Linked DNA regions of Homo sapiens. The protein of the gene in region 1 interacts with the protein of each later gene in a pairwise test. Each region holds a gene or a part of one and is shown on either strand. Other genes may lie near its edges. The genes, in order: SCML4, CLIC3 and RIPOR3.

What was found.
Region 2: the proteins of SCML4 (region 1) and CLIC3 interact in binary tests that used the Homo sapiens proteins (3 or more experiments, as listed by UniProt).
Region 3: the proteins of SCML4 (region 1) and RIPOR3 interact in binary tests that used the Homo sapiens proteins (3 or more experiments, as listed by UniProt).

The regions. Positions count from the first base shown.
Region 1 is NC_000006.12:107,821,306-107,828,906, forward strand, and holds the start of SCML4 (sex comb on midleg-like protein 4), read right to left. Parts: upstream 3,009-7,601; 5' UTR 2,821-3,008; intron 1-2,820. UniProt on the Homo sapiens protein: Putative Polycomb group (PcG) protein. PcG proteins act by forming multiprotein complexes, which are required to maintain the transcriptionally repressive state of homeotic genes throughout development.
Region 2 is NC_000009.12:136,994,087-137,001,441, forward strand, and holds CLIC3 (chloride intracellular channel protein 3), read right to left. Parts: upstream 2,483-7,355; 5' UTR 2,458-2,482; coding exon 2,425-2,457; intron 1,672-2,424; coding exon 1,562-1,671; intron 1,482-1,561; coding exon 1,356-1,481; intron 1,207-1,355; coding exon 1,100-1,206; intron 1,020-1,099; coding exon 844-1,019; intron 754-843; coding exon 595-753; 3' UTR 522-594; downstream 1-521. UniProt on the Homo sapiens protein: In the soluble state, catalyzes glutaredoxin-like thiol disulfide exchange reactions with reduced glutathione as electron donor.
Region 3 is NC_000020.11:50,590,471-50,597,572, forward strand, and holds part of RIPOR3 (RIPOR family member 3), read right to left. Parts: intron 5,920-7,102; coding exon of another isoform or gene 5,916-5,919; exon of another isoform or gene 5,830-5,915; intron 5,794-5,829; coding exon 5,670-5,793; intron 5,427-5,669; coding exon of another isoform or gene 5,412-5,426; exon of another isoform or gene 5,072-5,411; intron 5,035-5,071; coding exon 4,899-5,034; intron 4,632-4,898; coding exon of another isoform or gene 4,555-4,631; exon of another isoform or gene 4,294-4,554; intron 4,245-4,293; coding exon 4,083-4,244; intron 2,727-4,082; coding exon 2,565-2,726; intron 2,077-2,564; coding exon 1,874-2,076; intron 1-1,873.

The DNA.
Region 1 (7,601 bases):
CTTTTGAAGGCAATGAAAACATTAAAAAATGTGTAAATCTAAAACTAGCCTTTTGAGAGATGGCAGAATTAAGAAATAAGATGTCTAGGGAGGCATTGTTTAAAAGTTCCTTCTTAGAAACATCAGATGTGCCCACCAAAAGAAAGAAGCTTGTGTGATCACACCAAAGGCAACTGCTTTCACAAACTTCATCCACAAAATGTTAGACAAGATTTTACGCTCCATGATAATCAGATTAAAAGAGGGTCTTTTCTCATCTCCTTTCCCTTCTTTCCCATTCCATCCCCACATAAAATCTGAGGGCTCAGGGGAAGAATGACACTGGAGATGCTTGGTATCCTAAGGCTCCCAGCCCAATGAGGGGTAGTGTCACCTGCCACGCTCTTCAGGACTTGTGGAGTGGGATGGGCACATCCCGGCTCCCTGGCATCTACCCATGTGATATTGAGGTTTCCGAGGGCAGGGACTTGGGGAGGAAAATTGTCCTGCAGATCCCTAACAGGGCCCCTGTGAGGGCTTTCAAGCTCCAGCCACCACCTCTGCCTGGACCAAAAGTTCTTTAAGGTGCGTGTCATAAAGGATGTGTGGACACATGTGTGATGTGTCCTCAGGCCACACAAAATTGTAAACAGACCTACGAAGCACTCTAACATTTAAGCCCCCAGACTCCCAGAAAGGTTATTCCTCTCCGAGCATTCCTTGTTATGATTTCAGGGAACTTCAGTTATGTTTCCTTAAAAGTATTGAAGTATTTGAGATCCAAAATTGAGATTAAAAATACATAAACAGCAGAGATGATTTTCTCATCATTTCAAATTTTAAAAATTAAAAAAGTCTATCTTTGTACTTTGGGGTAGTGCTTGAATTTTTTAATAGGAAAGTGTTACTGAGTATTTTTTTAAAGTCAATATTGTTTTGAACTCTCATTATAAAAGTTCTTGCAGCAAGTGACAGTATTTGGGTCTGGCTTGTTTTCTGTGGGCTGAGCTGCTTAGCTTACCTGCTGCTTGCTAGAGGAGACAGCCTTTCACCCTCACCCCCAGGAGTCAAGAACCAGAAAGTGAAACTGCTTCTGCTGATTTCCCTCGCCTCGAAAACACACCACCAAAAGCAAAGAAATGATGAAAAGCAACTTACTCGTTTCGCTTATTGTTTTCTTGTCTTTCTATTACCGTTCATTTACTCTTTTCTTTTTTTCTTTTCTTTTTTTTTTTTTGCAGCAAAATAAAAGTAATTTTGGGGACACAGGGAAGAAATGTAAACATGTTATACATGAAAGAACTGGATTTTTGTGGGCTTTGCACTTTTGTTATAATTCCACAAATGAAGCAAACTGATGAATTTACCAAAATATTTCAGAGCTCATCTACGTACACAATTTAAAGAGCTAAAGAAAACACATTCATATTTTTTAAAAATTCTGTCAAAAAGCCTGTTTAAAAGTTATAGTTTGTGAAGCCACCAATTTCCCTAAAACTGAAGATTCTACATTAACCTTTTGAGTTTAGACGATCACGCAGTACCGATTTTCTAGGTAATCTTCACCCAGCTGCTGTTGCTCAAACAGCCCCTCATTTTATCAGACTAGTTCTACCAAGCAACACAAAAAATGCTCCACACAAATATTATACCCCCCAGATAGTTTAACACACTAAGAATTCCTTTGTAGTTATTTTTATGCTTTCACTCCAGATATTCTATTTTGCTTTAAAAAAAAAAAAGTGGAGAAAAAAAGCAGCTATATCCCTCATTCTTCAAAAATGGTTCCTCTGGTTGAAAAGAAAGAAAAACAGCATATAACAAATACCCTGATTCTGAAGTGCCTGGATTACTTTCTCAAGTACTGTAGTGTCTGAGATCAGTAAAAAACCACTTTCTCAGAAAGCCACTGATTGTCTAACCCTCATGAGTACCGTCATGGAATCTAGAGACAACACGAGGAGACACCTCTCGTTCACGATCACAGATAGTGGAAAGAACTTTGACTCAAGCACCTCAACTCAGCAAAACAGCTCAGCAGCCTGCACCCTGGCCTCATCCACCGCTCCTGTCCAGCCAGCAATCAACCTGGAGAGGACCCCTCATGCTTTGGGAGGAGCACGTGGAAGCTGGTTCAAGTCACAGTGCTCCACCTGGGAAGGAGGTGATTTTGAGCTTGGGAAAACTGCCGCTAATACTCCATAGTCACCAGTTTTTTTCCCAAAAAACGAATTAAAACCAGAAACTAGCAGTAAATATTATTCTTATTTATGCCTCATAAATTAGGAAAAACCAGCACAAAGACATGTGAAATATTCTACCTGGGATATTTGAAATAAAATTAAATGGGAAAAAAAACACTTTTACATGTTCATAACATACCAATTTTAATAACCAAATTTTAGGTAAATATTTTTATCCCAAGACATAGTACAATTTTTTTAAAATTAAAAAGCAAAACAAAGCAAAATTATCGTGAAGGGAAAAAATAACTAACCGGTTACTTGAGTTCACATTTGGAAAAAAATAACTTTCTAGGTATTTAAATGCAGAGTTAAAGAGTAATGAACATGTATATAGCCCAAATTTATAAACTATATAATTCAATGTTACATTTTCCCCTCTGAGATCTGGTTAATAAATTAAATGCTGTACTTTGCATATGAGGAACTAAAGTTTACCTACTGGACTCAGTGGTTTTAGTGCAGGACACTCTTGTGCGTTGCCATAGAGGTAGGCATGCAACCCAGAAAAAACTGAAACAGGTAACCTGTCATGCTGACAGTTACAAGAGAAAGATCCCGTGTCAACGGCACGCCTCCAATTGTGCATCTCCCTTACCTACAGCTTGTTCACCAGAGCCCTGAGCAGGTTGTTTACCAGGTCGGGAGTGTTGACTCAGAAGACAGATGACTTTCAGCACATGCAAACCGAGTATTGCAAAAGCTATCTTCCACCCGTGTTAGTAGCTCACAGTTAGTCTCCAGCAGCCCTGCGCTCCAGCTGCAAACATCTCATTAGACTAATGCATTCAGCACAGGCAGAAAACTCGATTTACCATAGCTACAGCAATGAATTTCCATTACGATGACAGCTTCAACCACATCATGTCCGGAAAACCAGCCAACCACTGGCTTTTAAAGAACACACACATTTTACATGCAGAAAACGAGGCCTCTGTGTGTGTGTGTGTGTGTGTGTGTGTGTGTGTGTGTGTGTGTGTGTGTGTGTGTTTTGTGTTTCCTTCCTCTTAGCAGCCTAAGAGAAATGTGCAGTGTAGCTTTTTGTCGACATGAGCTGCAAGGTAATGACACTTCTGCTTCTTTGGTAGTTACATCCTTGTAATAACCTGAATTATGTCACAATGGTTAGAATGGGTGTTTCCAACATTTCAGTTTTCATTACCCCTCCTCTGTTGCCATAGAAACCAGACTGTAACATCGTCTCTTTGTCCCAATCCTGCAGCAGTGTGGGCCAACACCAGGCTTATAAGACACTGGTGATCTGACAGAGTGAATGTTTGACTTTGGACAAATAAAACAAAAAGAAATATTACAATAGCATCATTGTTCAGGAGACCCTGTGTGATTCCCAGAGCAGTGTGCCTATCCAGGTGTGTGCACACACCATGGTTGTACATATTAAATCAGCGGCTGCCCACAACATATGTGTACAGTTCATTAAAGCCGGCCCTGACTTTGGCTCCAGGCCTGTATGTGTGTGTGTGTAAGCATCTCTACCCACCTCAACGTGGTGGGACCTGCACAGGATAGAAACAGGGCAAGAGTGACTATTCATTCCCATGCCCCATTGCATTTTCTGCAGCAAATCAATATATATCGGCGAAGGGATCTTTTCTTTTCCTTTCTTTTTGTAAAGTGGAGCAGGGCTCCCCATTGCCCATTTCATCCACTCTGGGATATTGGCATATTCACAGGTATTTCCTACAAGATGAAACATCCATTCTACAAACATGTGGCTTACTCCTAGGGATGAGCAGCAAACAAATTTAGCCGGGACTAAATATCAACCAGGGCTAACGAAGGCTTAGGCCACAACCTGGCCAGTTACTGAGAGTGAAAAAAACTGCAATGGACAACTTGAGGTTTCTCTAAATATATGTGTAGAGTCACATTAGAAGTACATAAGAAATCTCTCCTCTGAAATTTATTATGAAAATATAAAAAATTGTTTTAAGTCAAAGCCTTGTAATTAATTGAGCAAGAAGAAATTCACTACTTTAGTTCATTTAATCATCAAATTTTGTTGTTTTGTATGGGAAAAGGCAGGTTTGGTAGTTTGCATTTTCATTTCATATAAGTTGATTTCACTAAAGAAGGAGGAAGAGGAGAAGAAAAGAAAATAAGATGGATGGGCCAGGTGCAGTGGCTCATGCCTGTAATCCCAGCACTTTGGGAGGCCAAGGCGGGTGGATCACGAGGTCAGGAGATCGAGACCATCCTGTGAATGGTGAAACCCCGTCTCTACTAAAAATACAAAAAATTAGCTGGGCGTGGTGGCGGGCGCCTGTAGTCCCAGCTACTTGGGAGGCTGAGGAGGGAGAATGGCGTGAACCCGGGAGGCGGAGCTCACAGTGAGCCGATACCGTGCCACTGCACTCCAGCCTGGGTGACAGAGCGAGACTCCATCTCAAAAAAAAAAAAAAAAAAAAGAAAATAAGATGGATGGGCTAGGTGTGGTGGCTCATGCCTGTAATCCCAGCATTTTGGGACTCCTGGACTTGAGGTTAGGAGTTCGAGACCAGACTGGCCAACATGGTGAAACCCCATCTCTACTAAAAATACAAAAATTAGCCAGGCTTGGTGGCGCTTGCCTGTAATCCCAGCTACTCGGGAGGCTGAGGCAGGAGAATCGCTTGAACCTGGGAGGGAGAGGTTGCAGTGAGCTGAGATCACGCCATTGCACTCCAGCTTGGGTGACAAGAGTGAAATTCCATCTCAAAAAAAAAGAAAAAAGAAAGAAAAAGAAAAGAAGAAAAGAAAAGAAAAGAAAGAAAAGAAAAAGAAGAAAAGAAAAGGAAAGAAAAGGAAAGAAGATGGATGATTTAAGTTTGGACAGCATCTCTGTCCCAGCGACAGCGGTTATTATACTCACACCCGTGGCCTCACACATGCCACACTACACTGAGCTTAAAGCACCTGGAATGGGCTGAGACATTAGACCAATTTTCACTCTAAAATGTTTCTTAGGATTAAAAAAAATAACATTTCTTAAGTAATCAGAAATAATCTCCAAGTCCTGTAAAAGAAGTAAAAGGGTTGGCAGAATCTACCCATAAGAAAGGAGTTGCTGGTTTTCCTACCCAGCTCTGTGAGGGTTTCTCACTCTGATCCTCAGGCCCAACCTCCTTGCCTCCTCCCAGATGGGCTACTGTTGTCCTTGTCCTCAAGGTGGGTGCATGTGGGAAGCACCCATTGTCATCTAACAGGTCAACTTGGTAATAAAGCCTAAAATTGAAATCAACAAAAGCTGGATTGCTTGGGCGCGGTGGCTCACGCCTGTAATCCCAGCACTTTGGGAGGCTGAGGTGGGCAGATCACAAGGTCAGGAGATCGAGACCATCCTGGCTAACACGGTGAAACCCCGTCTCTACTAAAAATACAAAAAATTAGCTGGGAGTGGTGGCAGGCGCCTGTAGTCCCAGCTACTTGGGAGGCTGAGGCAGGAGAATGGTGTGAACCCGGGAGGCGGAGCTTGCAGTGAGCCGAGATCACGCCACTGCACTACAGCCTGGGCGACAGAGCGAGACTCCGTCTCAAAAAATATATATATTTTTTATATATATGTATATATTTAAGTAAACAATATTTATTTACTTAAATATGTTATTCAAAATATTTGATATTTAATAAATTATTCATTAAATTATGTAATTTAATAAATTTAATAAATATGTAAATATATTTATTTAAATATATCTTTATATTTTTATTTAAATATATTTACATTTTTATTTAAATATATATTTACATTTTTATTTAAATATATATTTGTTTTTTACTTAAATGTATATTTTTATTTAAATATATCTTTATATTTTTTACTTAAATTTTTTTATTTAAATATATCTGTATATACACACATTTATTAAAATATATATATTTAAACTTACTGGGATTTCTTTCTTCATGCAACCAGGAACATAGCTTTTAATAACTTAAATCAATATTTTAAAAAATCCTAAATGTTTTTAATTCCAAGAAAAATTTAAGTTAAACATGTAAGAAAAAAGAAATTTGATGGGATGACTGGTATTAGCTGAGGGACCTGCTAAGAAGAAAAGTGACCGCTCTGAGCTAGCATCTCTCTAAGTCTTGTACATCCCTGTCCCATGAAAAGGGTGCTTAGGTTGTGCCACGTTGTTAATTTTCTTTGCACTGTGGTTACATTTCTGTCTCAGACCACAAGCAGCATGTTCCACTCTCTCCACACGAGTGCTACTGGGCTGGTGGTTAGCAGGAGGCAACCAGAGGGAGCAAGTTAATTTGGGGGCGTCCCAAATGCAAATCTACTTAGAGTAGCCTCCATTTGAAGAGTAATCCTTCTGTCAGCTGCTGGTAAAGACACCGTTCACATTGAAAATGGCCTTTGTCCTAAAGAGTTGTGTTTTCCAACACAAGCATCCGATCGAGAGGATTCTGTCTTGGACTGGCAGTCAGTGCTACCGCCGAAACAACCTTTGTTATAACAGTGATAGCTAACATTTACTGAAGAATTATGTGTGAAGCCCTTCCCATTTTGTATCCCATTTATGACAATCCTATGAAGTAGGTATTATGATACCATTCCCATCTTACAGATAAGGAAACTGAGACTTAGGGATGTTAAATAACTTGCCCAAGGACACACAGCTTAGAAGTGGTAGACACAGGTCTGACCCAGGCAGTCTGTGCCCAAAGATACTCTAATTAATCATTCCACCTCATGGATCCTGGCACTGCCACTTGTTCCAGCCCTACCACTAACCCAATGACATGGGTGAAATCATTGACTTTCTATAACACGGGACAAGGAAATAAGGGACTAGATCATCTTTGTGGTCACTTATGGCTCTGACATTTCACAAGCCTAAGAACTGCTTTATCTCTAACTCAAAACATCGGTCTGCTGAAACAGGATGACGCTTTGGGTTGGAGGAGTGCTTAGTTGTGATTATGGATATGGCCATAATTACAAAGGGGCAAAAAGTGTCCTTTCTCTCATTAGGATAAGACCTAGTAAACTAGAGCTTTGGATATCAATTTGGAGCAAAGGTAGGGAGGAGAGAGCATGGAGAAAGAACACGAAGAAAAGCTAAGATTCCATTTCTGTAGTAAGGAAGGGAGAACAGCCTCCCACACTCCAGAGGCCCCACAGCTTCCCTTCCACATCATTCAACACAAGTTTGAGAACCTTAGGGGCTATGGAAAGCATAAGGCTTATGATTACCATTTTGCAGCAAATAGTTAACCTAATTAGTCAGACTACACAAGAGTGGGTGCCAGATCTCTTGACTCCCCAGTCTGTCGCTTCTTCAACCCAAAGGCCTGCCTTTCATGGGGCCAGATCTTAGCTTCAACTACTCAAGCAGGGATCTTTTAAAGTTAAAGACAAAACCGTTC
Region 2 (7,355 bases), on another chromosome or scaffold:
TCTCAGCTCCCTGGAGACTTCCTTGCTGGGCCGGAGGGAGGTGAGCACTCTCAGACCGTCCAGCTATTCCAGCCCTGCCAGCCCAGGAGCTGAGAGGGGCCCAGCCAGGCAGGGCCAGGGCTCCCCAAGGCTTAGAACTTTGTTCCCACCCTCCCAGGCCGCACCCAGGTAGGGCACGGAGCCCCGTGGGAGGATGCAGACAGAAGTCCCGTGTAGACCCTGAGACACTGGAAGTGCCCTGCGGGGAGGGGAGCGCCTGCCCCGGGACAGGATTGAGGAATGTGCCAGCCCCCATCCACCTGGGGCACCCCGCCCCACCCCGGCCTGACTGGTTTGGGAGCCCAGTCCGGTCCTGGAGATCCCTGAGGCCACCGGTTGCAGGAGGCCTGGAGTCTGCGCCTTCTTAGCGTGGAGGATGGGACCGGCCCGACCCCCGGCGCTCCTGCCCCTGTGGTTCTGGGCTATCGGGCTGAGCGTCCCACCCTGGGGTTTGGGGATGGGAAGTGATCCCGAGACCTCTGGCCCTTCAGATGTCAGGACACCCTCACTCCCGACAAAGATGCCTTTATTGGGCGACAGACGCGGGGTGGGGCGCTAGCGGGGGTGCACGGCGGGCCGGTAGGCCGCCAGGATCTCGGCGCTGTGCGGACACGTGTATTTGAACTCTTTCTCCTGCATCGCGCTGTCCAGGTAGCGGCGTACGCCGCGCAGCTCCGCGGGGATGGGCGCCTGGCGGAAGTGCGCGCACACCGTCTGCGGGCAGGATCGCGGGGCGCGGTCAGGACCTGCCGTCCCCCAGGCGCGCCGCGGTCACCCTCCCGCCCGCCCACCTTCCGTGCTCACGTCGACGATGTGCAGCTTGGGCAGGAGGCTGCAGTCGGCCAGCGTGAGCCTGTCGCCGTCCAGGAAGCGGCGGCGGGACTCGCGCAGCTGCGGCTCCCCCGCCAGCTCGTGCTCCAGGGGCGCGCGCAGGTAGCTGTCCAGCCTGGCGAGGGCGCGCAGCAGCTGCTGGTACAGGGCTAGGGGGCAGGCGGCGCGGTGAGGACCAGGCCCAGGGCGCCCTCCCGCCTGGGCACCCGACCCCCTGACCCCGCTTCACCTTCGTCCTGCGCGGGCACCGGGTTCTTGATGAACGCGGAGAACTTGTGGAAAACGTCGTTGCCGGCGGTGTTGGACTCCCTGTAACGAGGCGCCAGGCTGGGGAAGCTGCGGGATGAGGGGGTGGGACTCCATTAGACTGGGGGCAGCCCCGTCCCGGCCCCACAGTACCCCCACAGCGCCTTCCTGGGCTCTGTCTTGCGCGCGTCCTCCCTGGGCCCCCCTCTTTTCCCCTCCCACCCTGCCGGGGCTCTCACTCGGGCGGCCCCAGCGTCTCCTCCAGAAAGTCCTCGATCTGCAGCGTGTCTGTCTTGGCGTCGCTGTCATAGAGCAGGATGGGCAGCTGCGAGCCGGGGGCGAAGTCCTTCAGCACGTCCGGGGACCTGCGGGCAGCAGCGGGGTGGGAGGAGGCCGGCCCACCAGTGTGCGAGGCCAGGCGGGGGTCCACAGGATGGGGCCTCACCTGCGCGTGTCCACCGTGGTGAGGGTGAAAGGTACGCCCTTGAGGAGCAGGACCATGAAGAGCCGCTGGCAGGAGGGGCAGTGACCCACGCTCTCCCCGTCCTCACTCGCCTGGGTGGGTGGAGCGGGGGTGGGGGGTCAGGGCTGGAAGCAGACCCAGGCATCCTGCCGCCAGGCTGGGCGGGACCCGCCTCCCACTGCCAGTGGGATTGGAGGGACGCCAGGGCTCCAGCTTGGTCGGCGCGACTTCCAAGTGCCCAGTGAGGGCCCTTGACTTGGTCCCCAGAACGTGGGGAGGGGGGCAGAGCTGCTGGGAGCCTTGAGGCCTGGGGCAGGCTTGGCCCCTGGAATCTTGTCAGAGCCTGGACAGAGGCCAGGCCCCTGGGCTCAGTCCCCAAAAGCTGGTTGCAGGGGTGGGGTGGGCCTCACAAGCTGTTTTCTGAGTGATTCACACATGAGACTGGGCACTGTGGCCAACAGCACATCAGTCCCCCACCCCAGTCCCCGACCTGAGAGCTGATGGGGCTGCCTGGCCCAGCACCCCCCATCCTGGAACACCGACCGTAAGCTCCACTGTTGGCAGCCTGCTTGGTACCTCCCCACCAAGGAGCTCTCCTCCAGAAGACTGGGCTGGGCCCAGGAGCCAAGGCTGGGAGCAGGACCAGGGCCACTGACCCCTCTCTGGGTGACTCGCTGGGTCCCACTTTACTCAGCCTCTGTAGGGCTGCCTGAGTCCCCCTAGCCACCCACAGGAAGGGGCTCAGACATTACTGGGAGGCCCACCCCACAGCCTGCCACAGAAAGCAAAGCCCAGAAAAGCGCTTCCTCCCAGACACCCTCCCCGCAGCTGAGTCCGCCCTGCACCTTGACAAACAGCTGGAGCTTGGTCTCCGCCATGGTGGGAGCTGCCGCGGTCAGGCGCGGGTGGGGACCTGGGGAGCTCTTTAAGTCTCCCTGTGCGCCCCGCCCTCCCTGGCCGAGGGGCCCGCCCCGTGGAGCCACCTAGGCGGGCAGATGAAGCTGCCCAGCGCGCAGAACCAGCTGCCTGAGCAACGCCAGCCCGGCCCCGGGGTGTCTGAGCCTGAGGGTGTGACCTCAGGGTGGCGGAATGGTGTGGGGGGCTGCCCTGGACTTGAGTCTGGTGTGCACGGAGATCCGCCCACCCGGTACTGAGTGTGCTGGGAGCCAGCGTGGTGGGTGGAGACCAGGGGGCAGGGCATAGGGAGAGCCTACAGGCCAGAAGGGTGCAGGGGGTGTCACCTGGGAAGGGGGCGGCTCTGGGTCAGGACCACCTCCACCGTGAACCCAGCTCAGACCCTGCCCTATGGCTCTCCCTTCCGCAAATACCCCTTGTCAGGGCTCCCAGCCCAGAAAGCCAGTGGGTGTGGGTGAGCAGGAGAAATGGCCTGCCCAGCCTGGCTTCAGTTCCCCATCTGCAGCACCAGGGCATCGGGAGGGTGATAAGCCCACCTGGGGGAGCCGCCCCTTCCCAGCTACGGAGCAGTCAGGCAGGGCCCTCCCCGCTCAGGGCAGGGCTCAAATTCCAGACCTGCCCGCAACAGGGCGGGGAGGCCAGCCTGGCTTTGGTGTTTGGCCGGCAGTGCAGGTCTCCACCCCACCTCCCATCCCTCCCACTGGCGCTCAGCGCAGGTTTCTTACCCCCAACCCCTTAACCTTTAAAAAGAAGCAGCAGGAGAGGGGTTAGAAGCCACAGCCTGCGTGGCTGGAAGAAAGAGGCCAGGGGAGGGTGGTGGTCCACAGGTGTGAGCCTGCGCTGAGCCTCCTGGCGTGATTGGAACCCACAGTTCAGTCTGGCCCTTTGGGGTCGCCAACTGTGCCTTCCTCCCACCTGGCCCTGACGCTTTAGGGTGCAGCCCCAGGGAGGTACACCGAGGGGAGATTCCACCCAGAGACCTGGGGTGCCCACAGGATTGGCCTGGCCACACCTCCCCCAGGCGGTGTGGTGCCTCACCAGCCTGGACAGGGCAGCTGAGGTGGCACTGCTCTCCTGCTCACCTTCTCCCCAGGGCCTTGGTACGGGCCCCTCATCCGTCCCCGGTGGAACACACTCCAGTGCTGCCCCAGTCAGCCCAGCCTGATGCTTCTCTGGATACCACGCCAGTCGGGGCTCCTGGACACAGAGCCTTGGAAATACCATGTGGCTGCCCCATCCTTTGGTGTCCTGAACCTCAATTTCCCTCCATCCGGCCTCCACCTCGATTCCAAGCCCTAGTATTTCAGCTCTTTCTGGACACTGTGGTTATAGCTCCGCTTGCTGGTTTCCCACATCCCTGGCAGGCAAATGGCCAACCACAGAGAAGCCCCAGGCCCCCAGCCCCCTCTGCTGCCCCGGCATCCTGTGTCTTTAACACCGACAGACGCACCCTCACAAACCCACAGGAAAAATGACGGCACGGACAGAGGCCGTGAACCGGTGGCTCAGAAGGAAAAAGAAAACAAGACACAGGAAGACCATTCACCTCACGCCCGTCTCAAGAAACAAACCAACAAGACTCGGTTCACCGCTGCAGCGGCCCCACTGCGTTCTGTGGGCGTGGGCTGTGGACTGTGGAGCGGCAGTGGCCATCCAACACCCCCCTGTGCCCTCGCCACCTGGGAATCAGCCCGGTGGCTTCCTTTTTTTTTTATGGTTTAATCAATTCATTTATTTACTAGAAACAGGGTCCTGCCATGTTGCCCAGGCTGGTCTCCACCTCATGGGCTCAAGTGACCCACCTGCCTTGGTCTCCCACAGTGCTGGAACTACAGGCGCGAGCTGCCACACCCGGCCGGTTTCCCTGTGAAGGGCAAGTGAGTGCTGGCTGCCCCACTGCGTGGCGTGGCGTGGCGTGGCGTGGCTCCGTGGCACGGCCACCACCCTGTCTATGGGAGACTCCAGTTGTGTCCAGGGAGAAGGACGGAAAAGGTGACTCCATGCATGCCCACTGCAGGGAGGGCCTGAGATTAGGTAAATGGCGTGGCTTGTGTCCCCTTAAATTTAAATTCTTAGGCTGGAGTCCTAACCCCTAGTGCCTCAGAATGTGACCTTATATGGGCCGGGCACGGTGACTCATGCCTGTAATCCCAGCAGTCTGGGAGGCCGAGGGGGGTGGATCACCTGAGGTCAGGAGTTTGAGACCAGCCTGACCAACATGGTGAAACCCCGTCTCTACTAAAAATACAAAAATTAGCCAGGCATAGTGGCAGGCACCTGTAATCCCAGCTACTCGGGAAGCTGAGGCAGGAGAAGTGCTTGAACCCGGGAGACAGAGTTGCAGTGAGCAGAGATAGTGCCACTGCATTCCAGCCTGGGCAACAGAGCAAGACTCCATCTTGGAAAAAAAATAAAGAATGTGACCTTATGTGGAAACAGGGGCTTTTTAACATTTTTTTTGAGACAGAGTCTTGCTCTGTTGCCCAGGCTGGAATGCAGTGGTGCAATCTCGGCTCACTGCAACTTCTGCCTCCTGGGTTCAAGCAATTCTACTTTCTCAGCCTCTGGAGTAGCTGGGATTACAGGTACACGTCACCACGCTGAGCTTTTTTTTTTTTTCCTTGTATTTGTAGTAGAGACAGGGTTTCACCATGTTGATCAGGCTGGTCTCGAACTCCTGACCTCAGAAGATCTACCCACCTTGGCCTCCCAAAATGCTGGGAATACAGGTGTGAGCCACCGCACCCGGCTGAAATAGGGTCTTTATAGAAGTTATCAAGTTAAAATGTGGTGAGTAGGATGTGCCCTGATCCAATATGACTGATGTCAGTATAGAAAGGCGAGTTTGGACACAGATGCACAGGGAGGGCCGCAGGCAGAAATCAGGGTGGCACATCTGTAAGCCTGGGAGCCAAGCGGATGCTCTCCAAGGCCCTTGGGAGGAAGCAGCCCTGCCCAAGCCTAGGTGCTATGTCTGACCTCCAGACTGCTAGGCAGTGAGCTTCTGTTTTTTTTGTTTTTTTTTTTTAATGAGATGCAGTCTTGCTCTGTCGCCCAGGCTGGAGTGCAGTGGCACAATCTCGGCTCACTGCAAGTTCTGCCTCCCCAGGTTCACGCCATTCTCCTGTCTCAGCCTCCCAAGTAGCTGGGACTACAGGCGCCCGCTACCACACCTGGCTAATTTTTGTATTTTTAGTAGAGACGGGGTTTCACTGCGTTAGCCAGGATGGTCTCGATCTCCTGACCTCGTGATCCGCTCGCCTCGGCCTCCCAAAGTGCTGGGATTACAGGCGTGAGCTCCCGCGCCCCGCGGTGTTGTTGTTTTAAGATGGAGTCTCACTGTCACCCAGGCTGGAGTGCAATGGCTCAATCTCGGCTCATTGCAACCCGCGCCTCACCGGCTGAAGCGATTCTCCTGCCCCAGCCTCCCGAGTAGCTGGGATTACAGGCGCCCACCACCACGCCTGGCTAATTTTTGTATTTTTAGTAGAGACGGGGTTTCACCATGTTGGTCAGGCTGGTCTCAAACTCCTGACCTCAAGTGATCCGCCCACCTCGGCCTCCCAAAGTCAGTTTCTGTTGTTTTAAACCCCTCACTTTGTGGTCCTTTGCATGGCAGCGCCAGCAAGCTAATAAGTAAAGCAGGGAGAAGCCAGGAAATGGAAGAAAATCAGCATTAGGATCTGTCATTCTGAGTCTCTACTTGAACAGAGCTGAAAAAAGACGCAAGGAGCTGTCTGTGGGATGACCCCTGACAGGCAGAAACAGGCTTTCAGTTTTGCTTCCTGTCTGTCCACACTGTTTGCATTTTCTACCACATTTTTGTAATACCACATTTTCTACCACAATTTCATAATGTTTTGAAGTAAGAACAGTATCACAGCCACTAACCTTAACTAGACCCTGGTCCCCGAGGCCACGGGGTTATCCCTAAACCTCCCGTCCCCTGCAGCCCCTGCTCCTGATTCATAGAGCCAGCGTTAGAGGGGCCCAAGCTGAGGTCCCGAGGCTGCTGCTCTGGGACTGACTGACTGGTGGGTTAGAACTCTCTCCCTCCCCAACACCCCTCCCTGTAGGCCCCTTCCAAGGGGCTCTTTTTTTTTTTTTTTTTTTTTTTTTTTGAGACAGGGTTTCACTCTGTCACCCAGGCTGGAGTGCAATGGCGCAGTCATAGCTCACTGCAGCCTCCACCTCCTGGGCTCCAGTGATCCTCCTGCCTCCGCCTGCACAGGGCCACACCCCAGTGACATTTGAGCAGCTCTGTTCTGAAGGGAGACACACACCTGTTTGGGGGGCCGGAGGGCTGGGGGCATTGGGGTATTGGTGCAAACTTGTGCAGAGATTTATCTGCTCTGTGCATGGAGAGAGCCTAGAAGCAGTGAGACCTCGGGAGCGGTGAGACCTCGGGGGCGGCGAGACATCGGGGGCGGCGTGACCTCGGGGGCGGCGAGACCTCGGGGGCGGCGGGACCTCGGGGGCGGCGGGACCTCGGGGGCAGCGAGACCTCGGGAGCAGTGTGCAGACCAGAGCTCAGATTCTGGTCCCAAAGCCCATCTTCCCTAAAAGGAACCAGGGTTCTGCTAGGGACTGAATGTGTCCTCCCCAAAATTTGTGTGTTGAAACCCTGGCCCCTAGGCCAGGCACATGGCTCACGCCTGTAATCCCAGCACTTTGGGAGGCCGAGGTGAGTGGATCACCTGAGGTTGGGAGTTCCAGACCAGCCAGACCAAAATGGGGAAACCCTGTCTCTACTAAAAATGCAAAATTAGCCGGGCGTGGTGGCACATGCCTGTAATCCCAGCTACTCGGGAGGCTAAGGCAGGAGAATCGCTTGAACCTGGGAGGCAAAGTTTCCGGTGAG
Region 3 (7,102 bases), on another chromosome or scaffold:
CCCAGGTGTAGAGTTGGCTCCAGGGACCTGGGCCCAGAGCCAAAAGAGAATGGCCGCCTTTCCATCTGCAGGTGGCTCTCCAAAGTGTCTGCTGCTTTGGGAAGACAGACTGGGAGTAGGATCGGGTCCTCCCGCTCCTCCTACACAGGGCTCTGGTGAAGGCTGTGAGGCCACATCGGTGTGGAAATGTCACACTGCCCACTGCCTCTAACCCCAGGGTCCCAGGTCATGGCAGCCTACTCCTTCCTCAGCACCCTCATCTGAGGCCAAGCAATCTGTCACTGGGTTGGCCCCCACCTCAGTGTTTCCTACTCTCTAAAGTCTGTCACATGAAGATGAAGGCCCTTTTTTTTTTTTTTTTTGAGACAGAGTCTCACTTCGTTGCCCAGCCTGGGGTGCAGTAGCACAATCTCGGCTCCCTGCAGCCTCTGCTTCCCATGGAGGCCTTGTTTATATACCCCCATACCCAAAAAACAAAATACACCTGACTTCAGTGGATCCTTGAAGCCAACTACTAGTTTTCAGGAACTACAGAAGACAGAGAAATACATTAAACTACCGTTAAACTTCCTGCAAGCAGCAAAGTCTAGATAGTCTAGGTCAACCTGGGATCGATCAAATTAATTGCAAGCAGAGAAAGAAACGGGGAAAAAAACCTTTAGATTGATTGGAAGCCATCAGCCAATCACAATGTGTGTCCTTATGTAGATACTATTTTAACAAAAAATAAAACAGGATGCTTGAGGCTTGGAAATTTGAACATAAGATATATGATATAAAGGAATTGATAGTTAATTTTTTAGATAAGATAATGGTGTTAGAGTTGTGATTTTTGAAAGAATTCTTAACCTTTTGACACATATAGTTAACTATTTAAGGTCAAATAGGATGCCTCAGGTTGCTTCAAAGTGATACAGGGGAGTGGAGGGGAAAGGGGCAGGATTGGCCATGGGTTGATGGTGGTTGGGCTTGGGTTATGGGTGCAGGTGGATTCATTATATTGCTCTGTCTACTTTTGCAAGTTCAAAAGTCTCCAAATAAAGAGTTAAAAACAACCACAAAGTAGGCGGATGGGCTCCAAGAAGGGCTATTGGCAATGGAACTGGAGATTTCCTCTCTAGTCTGGAGCTGAGACCATCAGTGTAGACTATGCCCTTGATGTCACCCTTCCTGAACCCCTCAGGGTGTGGCGCCTTAAACGTACAGTAGTTACAGGCAAAGAGTGAAAAAGCAGAGAGGTCCACTCTCTTGGTTTTCAAATGGACTGAACACAGTGACCCATTACCAGGTAGCCATGAATATTAATTGAAAGTAAATAAGGATGACTATCAAAACACTAAGAAAGGCTGGGCGCAGTGGCTCACGCCTGTAATCCCAGCACTTTGGGAAGCCAAGGCAGGCGGATCGCAGGGTCAGGAGTTTGAGACCAGCCTGGCCAACATGGTGAAACCCTGTATCTACTAAAATTACAAAAATTAGCTGGGTATGGTGGTGGGCGCCTGTAATCCCAGCTACTCAGGAGGCTGAGGCAGGAGAATTGCTTGAACCCAGGAGGTGGAGGTTGCAAGATCGTGGCACTGGACTCCAGCCTGGGCAACAGAGCAGAACTCTGTCTAAACAGACAGACAAAAAACGCACTAAGAAAAACATTCAGCGTGCAAGTGACATCTCAGAGGCCTAACAGATGTGTTGCTTTGGAAGCAGCAAGGTGCATTCATGTGTGTTAGATCGTAGCCCAGGTCCCTCCATCAAAATAGCTCACAGCTACTGCAGCCCCTGGCACTCACTTCTTTGTACTTTTCCATGAGAACACCAGCTTACCTATGCCCACACATCTGTGGCCAGGGTCTGCCACCTGCCCTGGACAACGTACCTTTTCCCGGAAGCTTCTGTTCCTGACTGCACCAGCCAGGCGAGCGCTGGCCGCCCTGCACACCCTCGGAGTGCCGTCCAGCTGGAGCAGCGCCCAGGCTCTTAAGGTCTGGGGCAGAGGCTGGAGCTGGCCCAGCCGCTTCCCCTGCAGCTTCCGGACCACCTTGGCCTGTCCCGCACAGTGAAGCTCCTCGATGAGTGTCACTAGAAGACAGGAAAGAGGTGGGCCCAGGTCCCCTGAATGGGAGTTTGGCAGGACAGCTGCAAGTTTGCTTGGCTGCTGCCAGTAGCCACAGAGGAACAAATCCCAGACCCACCGGGATGATCACCAAGGCCCAGCCTGGACTAATTTCACAGGGAGCTCCTGGAATCTCCAGGAAGGCCTTTTAACAAGGGGTCAAATATGCTCCATAAATTAATAAAACCACAGCCCACACTTCCAGGGACTCTGGCCAGCCAAGATCACCCTCCTACCCAGCTCTGACCTCTGTTCCGTGCTTTTTAAAGCTGACTTCCCTTGGAGCTAATATCAGCCCCCATCGGCTGAACGCAGAATCTCATTAAATCGGGGTTCCCAAAAGAACAGTTGGCGGGGATGGATGTAGTGGTTCTGAATTATAACCTGAGAAACTGCATGTGACAGGGCTCCGTGGATATTCCTCTGCTATGACAGCCACCCACCCCAGTCTTACCTTCCTTGGTGAGCTGGGTGAAGTGCTTCTCCAGGTCAGAGACGCTCTGCCTCTGCAGGTAGCTGTGAAACTGGAACCAGGTAATGATCTGTTCTTCTGGGAGCCCAGCTCCGGGGAGCAGCCCACCACAGCTGACCACCTGCTCCAGGAGCCTGCGGCACGCTGGCCAAAGGGGAGAGTACATCAGGAGAAACTGAGACCTCGACCCTCCACGCTTCTCAGCTGGGAGTAGCCTGGTCAGCTAAAAGGCTTTCTGGGCCGGGCGCAGTGGCTCGCACCTGTAACCCCAGCACTTTGGGAGGCCAAGGTGGGCAGATCACCTGAGGTCAGGAGTTCGAGACCAGCCTGACCAACATGGTGAAACCCCATCTCTACTAAAAATACAAAATTAGCTGGGTGTGGTGGTGCCTGCCTGTTTCCCAGCAACTCTGGAGGCTGAGGCAGGAGAATCGCTTGAACCCGGGAGGTGGAGGTTGTAGTGAGCCAAGATTGCGCCACTGCATTCCAGTCTGGGCAACCATGAGTGAAACCCCATCTCAAAAAAAAAAAGGGTTTCTGATGGCACGAGGGCAGGTGTCCCTCACTGCATTCCCTGTGCTGTAGGGGAGGAGTGTGCCCAGCTAGAGTCAGGACTGTGACTCCAACTCACCCTGAGTCAGACCGTGTTGGGTTCATCCCCATGCCCTGGGCCCCACACCACACCTGGATCAAAATCCCGGAGGCAGGGCCTGGGAATATGCATGTCAACAAGCAGTCCAGGTGGTGCTTGGAACATGACTGTCACCTTTCACTTGCTCCACAGAGAAAGGCAAATTCTGGGGAAGAACGCAGTCCAGCCAGCATTTCTAGATACCCTCGTGGGCCCCTGCCTGCCTCCCTTCCCATAAGGTTCATTCTTTACCCGTCAGGCTCTGGTGGGAGGCATGGAATCTGTCCCCAGAAAAATGCTCTGGCGGCCGGGCGCAGTGGCTCATGCCTGTAATCCCAGCACTTTGGGAGGCCGAGGCGGGCGAATCACAAGGTCAGGAGTTCGAGACCAGCCTGGCCAATATGGCGAAACCCCGTCTCTACTAAAAATACAAAAAAAGAAAATTAGCCAAGCGTGGTGGTGCACACCTGTAATCCCAGCTACTCGGGAGGCTGAGGCAGAAGAATCGCTTGAACCCGGGAGGTAGAGGTTGCAGTGAGCCATGATTGTGCCACAGCACTATAGCCTGGGCGACAGAGTGAGACTCCATCTCAAAAAAAAAAAAAAAAAAAAATGCACCGGCCCACCAAGTTTGCACGCAGCTTCAGGGCTCCACAGACTGCTCAGAAGGCCCCACGTGGAGGCCCCTTCTCGCCCGGTGAAAGGGCGGTGACTCGCACTGAAGCTGAGAAAGCTCCTCCGTCCGATGGCATGAAGACACAGAGGTGAAGACAGGGCTGAAATGAGGCCAGCTGTGGCCACCCTGAAGGCCCTGGAGACTCAATACAGCCTTTCTGTGGGAGGGGACGACAGGACAGAAGGGAACCCACCTATTTCCAGCTGTCCTGGGTACTTCCCTCTGACTCTGTGCTGGAAGGTTTTCTTGAGCTGGTTCAGCAGCGTCGTGGCAGGGCAGGACAGGACCCTGCCAGGCCCTGTGCACCCTCTCCACAGCTTCAGGCACCCCTTCGTCCGCGAGGCCTGTGGGATGACTGAAAGCCCCAGTTCAGAAACCTGAATGGTGACTCGGGGAGAGCACATGACAAGGACCCGAAAGGTTTCCCTCCACTAGGACCTGAGGGGGTAGGGAGGAGGGGACGGTGTGGCTTGATGCGAGGTCCCTTCCCTGCATTCCCATGTGACACGTGAGCAACTTTGGCTCTAAGCATCTTACCAGGGCCACCACCTGCAGTCCCCACAACAACCTGGGAGGGGCTGCTGTCACCAGCCTCTCCTTACAGACAAGGAACCTGGCCTTCTGAGGGGAGGTCCCACGGGGCAGAGGCACAGCTGGGATCACAGCTACTGTTTGACGGCACATTCTGCACCTTGAATGTGGCCTGGGGTTACCTCACTGAACCCCGTGCAGTGCCCTCCTCCTATGCAGATAGGGAAGCAGAGGCTCAGAGATGTGAATCATTTGCCTAGAGTCACACAGCTGACTGAAGAGTGTGCTGCAACTCCAGGACTTGTCTCCCTTACCTCCCCACAAAGAGTGTGTATCTCTGAGCCCAGCCCAGCCACAGCCTCCACTCTGGGCCCCGATTAACTCTGGCTATTAGGAAGGCAGAAGAGGCTCCCCGAGCTTTGATCCCGTCCCCGTGCCGCTCACATAGGCAGCCCCTGGGTGGCAGGCAGCTACTTACTCTCTTCAATGGATGTTGCCTTGCCGACCTTCTCAAAGTCAAGGACAGAAAGTGTCTCCAGAACGTGCTTTTGCTGTGCCACTTCTTCCAGGAGGCATTCCTGGACCAGCCTTGATAAATTAGGGGAGGCCAGTTTCTGGGAAGCAGCCCAGATGCTCCAGATTAGCATGGAACATGCCCACCGAGGTCAGCTGTTACGGCTGTGGCTCCCACCTGCTTGTGCCCATCTCTTCTGTCCCGGGGGCAGCTCCCTGACTGTCATTTGGGGATTCCCCTTTCACCAAGGTGGCTGAGCTAATGGGATGCAGGCTGGGCTGCCAGGGACCACCTTTGCCCCCAGAAGGAGGACCAACCTGCCTGAAAGTGAAGCCAACCCACATTGCAAAGCAGAACTGAGAGAGACCTAGTCCTGATAGCATTTGAACCCGTGCATCCAGCCGAGCCTGAAGCCTACCTCTGAGGCTTTCAGTACCATGAGCCGATAAATTTTCCTGTTGGCTGAGCCAGTTTGCATTAGGGTTCTGGCACCTATAAATGAGAGTCACCACCAAAGCCTTTGGTTTAGGGCTTGGCCTGTGTAAGAGCCACACGAGTATTCACCCAGACCCTGGTCTGCCTCTCTTCCACTGGGGAATAGCTTCAGTCTCACGGGCTTCCAGGATGCAGGTCTGTCACCCCTTCATGCTTCCCACCACCTTCAAGATGAGCCTTTGCAAAGAGGACTCCAAACCCCTGTCTGCCCCTCCCTGACAAGTCCCCTAGCCCAGCCACCTGCAGCAGAGCTTTGCAGACTTGGAGGTGTACCATCAGCAGCACGTCCAGCTCTGGGGCACCGGCTGTGAGTTCCCTGGATGACGCTTTCAGTGATGACGGTGGGGGCAGGGGCCGGTCCTTTCTGAGTTGAATTGAGAACTGGGTGACCATTCCAGTTAGCAGTTCAGCTCCCTCTGAGGGTGGGGGAACCCTCCCTTCCCAGCGAGCCCCAGGTCAGGAGGCCCACTCCAGGTCCCAGGAAGTTCAACTGAAGAGGAAGGGGAAAGGAACAAAGGGTGGCAGCAACTCGAAACAGAGCTGGGAGGTGTGGCCAAGGGCCTGGGGAAGGCAGGGCGGGCAGTCGTCTTCCAGGATGTCTCGTGGAGGTAGAAGAGAATTCCAACTCATCCCAGCTCTGTGACGCTGGACAAGTCTGCCTCCCCAAGGCTCAGGTGACTCATCTATCAAGGGAGGCAGGAGCCCCACACTCAAGGCCGTGAGGGGTGCATGAAATACGGTGGGCAAGAGCGCCTCACACCAAGTCCACTCTGTGGTAGAGGCTAGACCTGCTGCCCGACCCACTCAGCCACTCAGGAAGGGTGGAAGCAAGTGTGGCACGAAACACCGCACTCGTCCGTGGGATTGTGAGAGGCGAGGAGAAGGAATTGAGCCTCTGCTCTTCCATGTGGTGAGATGCGGATGCAGAAGCCCTCGGGGGCTGGGGCAGGTGAGGCTGCGTAGCCTCGAGGGAAGCTGTCATGAGAGGTGTGGGCCCTGTGGTGGGACAGAGGGAACAGCACTGGATACTGCTGCACCTTGGTTAGGGGCTAAGAGCTTTTTTTTTCTTTTTCTTTTTCTTTTTTTGAGACAGAGTCTTACTTTCGCCCAGGCTGAAATGTAGTGGTGCCATCTTGGCTCACTGCAACCTCCGCCTCCCGGGTCCGAGTGATTCTCCTGCCTCAGCCTCCTGAGTAGCTGAGATTACAGGCTCTTGCCACCATGCCCAGCTAATTTTTGTATTTTTAGTAGAGACGGGGTTTCATCATGTTGGCCAGGCTGGTCTTGAACTCCTGACCTCAGGTAATCCGCCTGCCTCGGCCTCCCAAAGTGTTGGGATTACAGGCGTGAGCCACTGTGCCTGGCCTCAAAGAACTTCTACTATATACTTGGTGATTATTTTTAAGGTTTAAAAAATAATACTAAAAGCTGGTTCCTTGGAGCAGAAGGCTCAGGGGCAGGCTGGGGTGATCTCACCCACTTCGTGGTCTCTGAGGACCGGCTCTGAGGCAAGTGGGGGATGTGCGGGGATGGCATGGGGAAGGGTGCACGATAGAGTGACAAGAGCTGAGCCAAGGACAGTGGGAGAAACAGACGGGGAGGCTGGCAGGAAACGTGGAGCTCGGGTCACCCGGTGGGAGTGGTGGCCACTGGGTCACTGCTGGAAGGAGGTG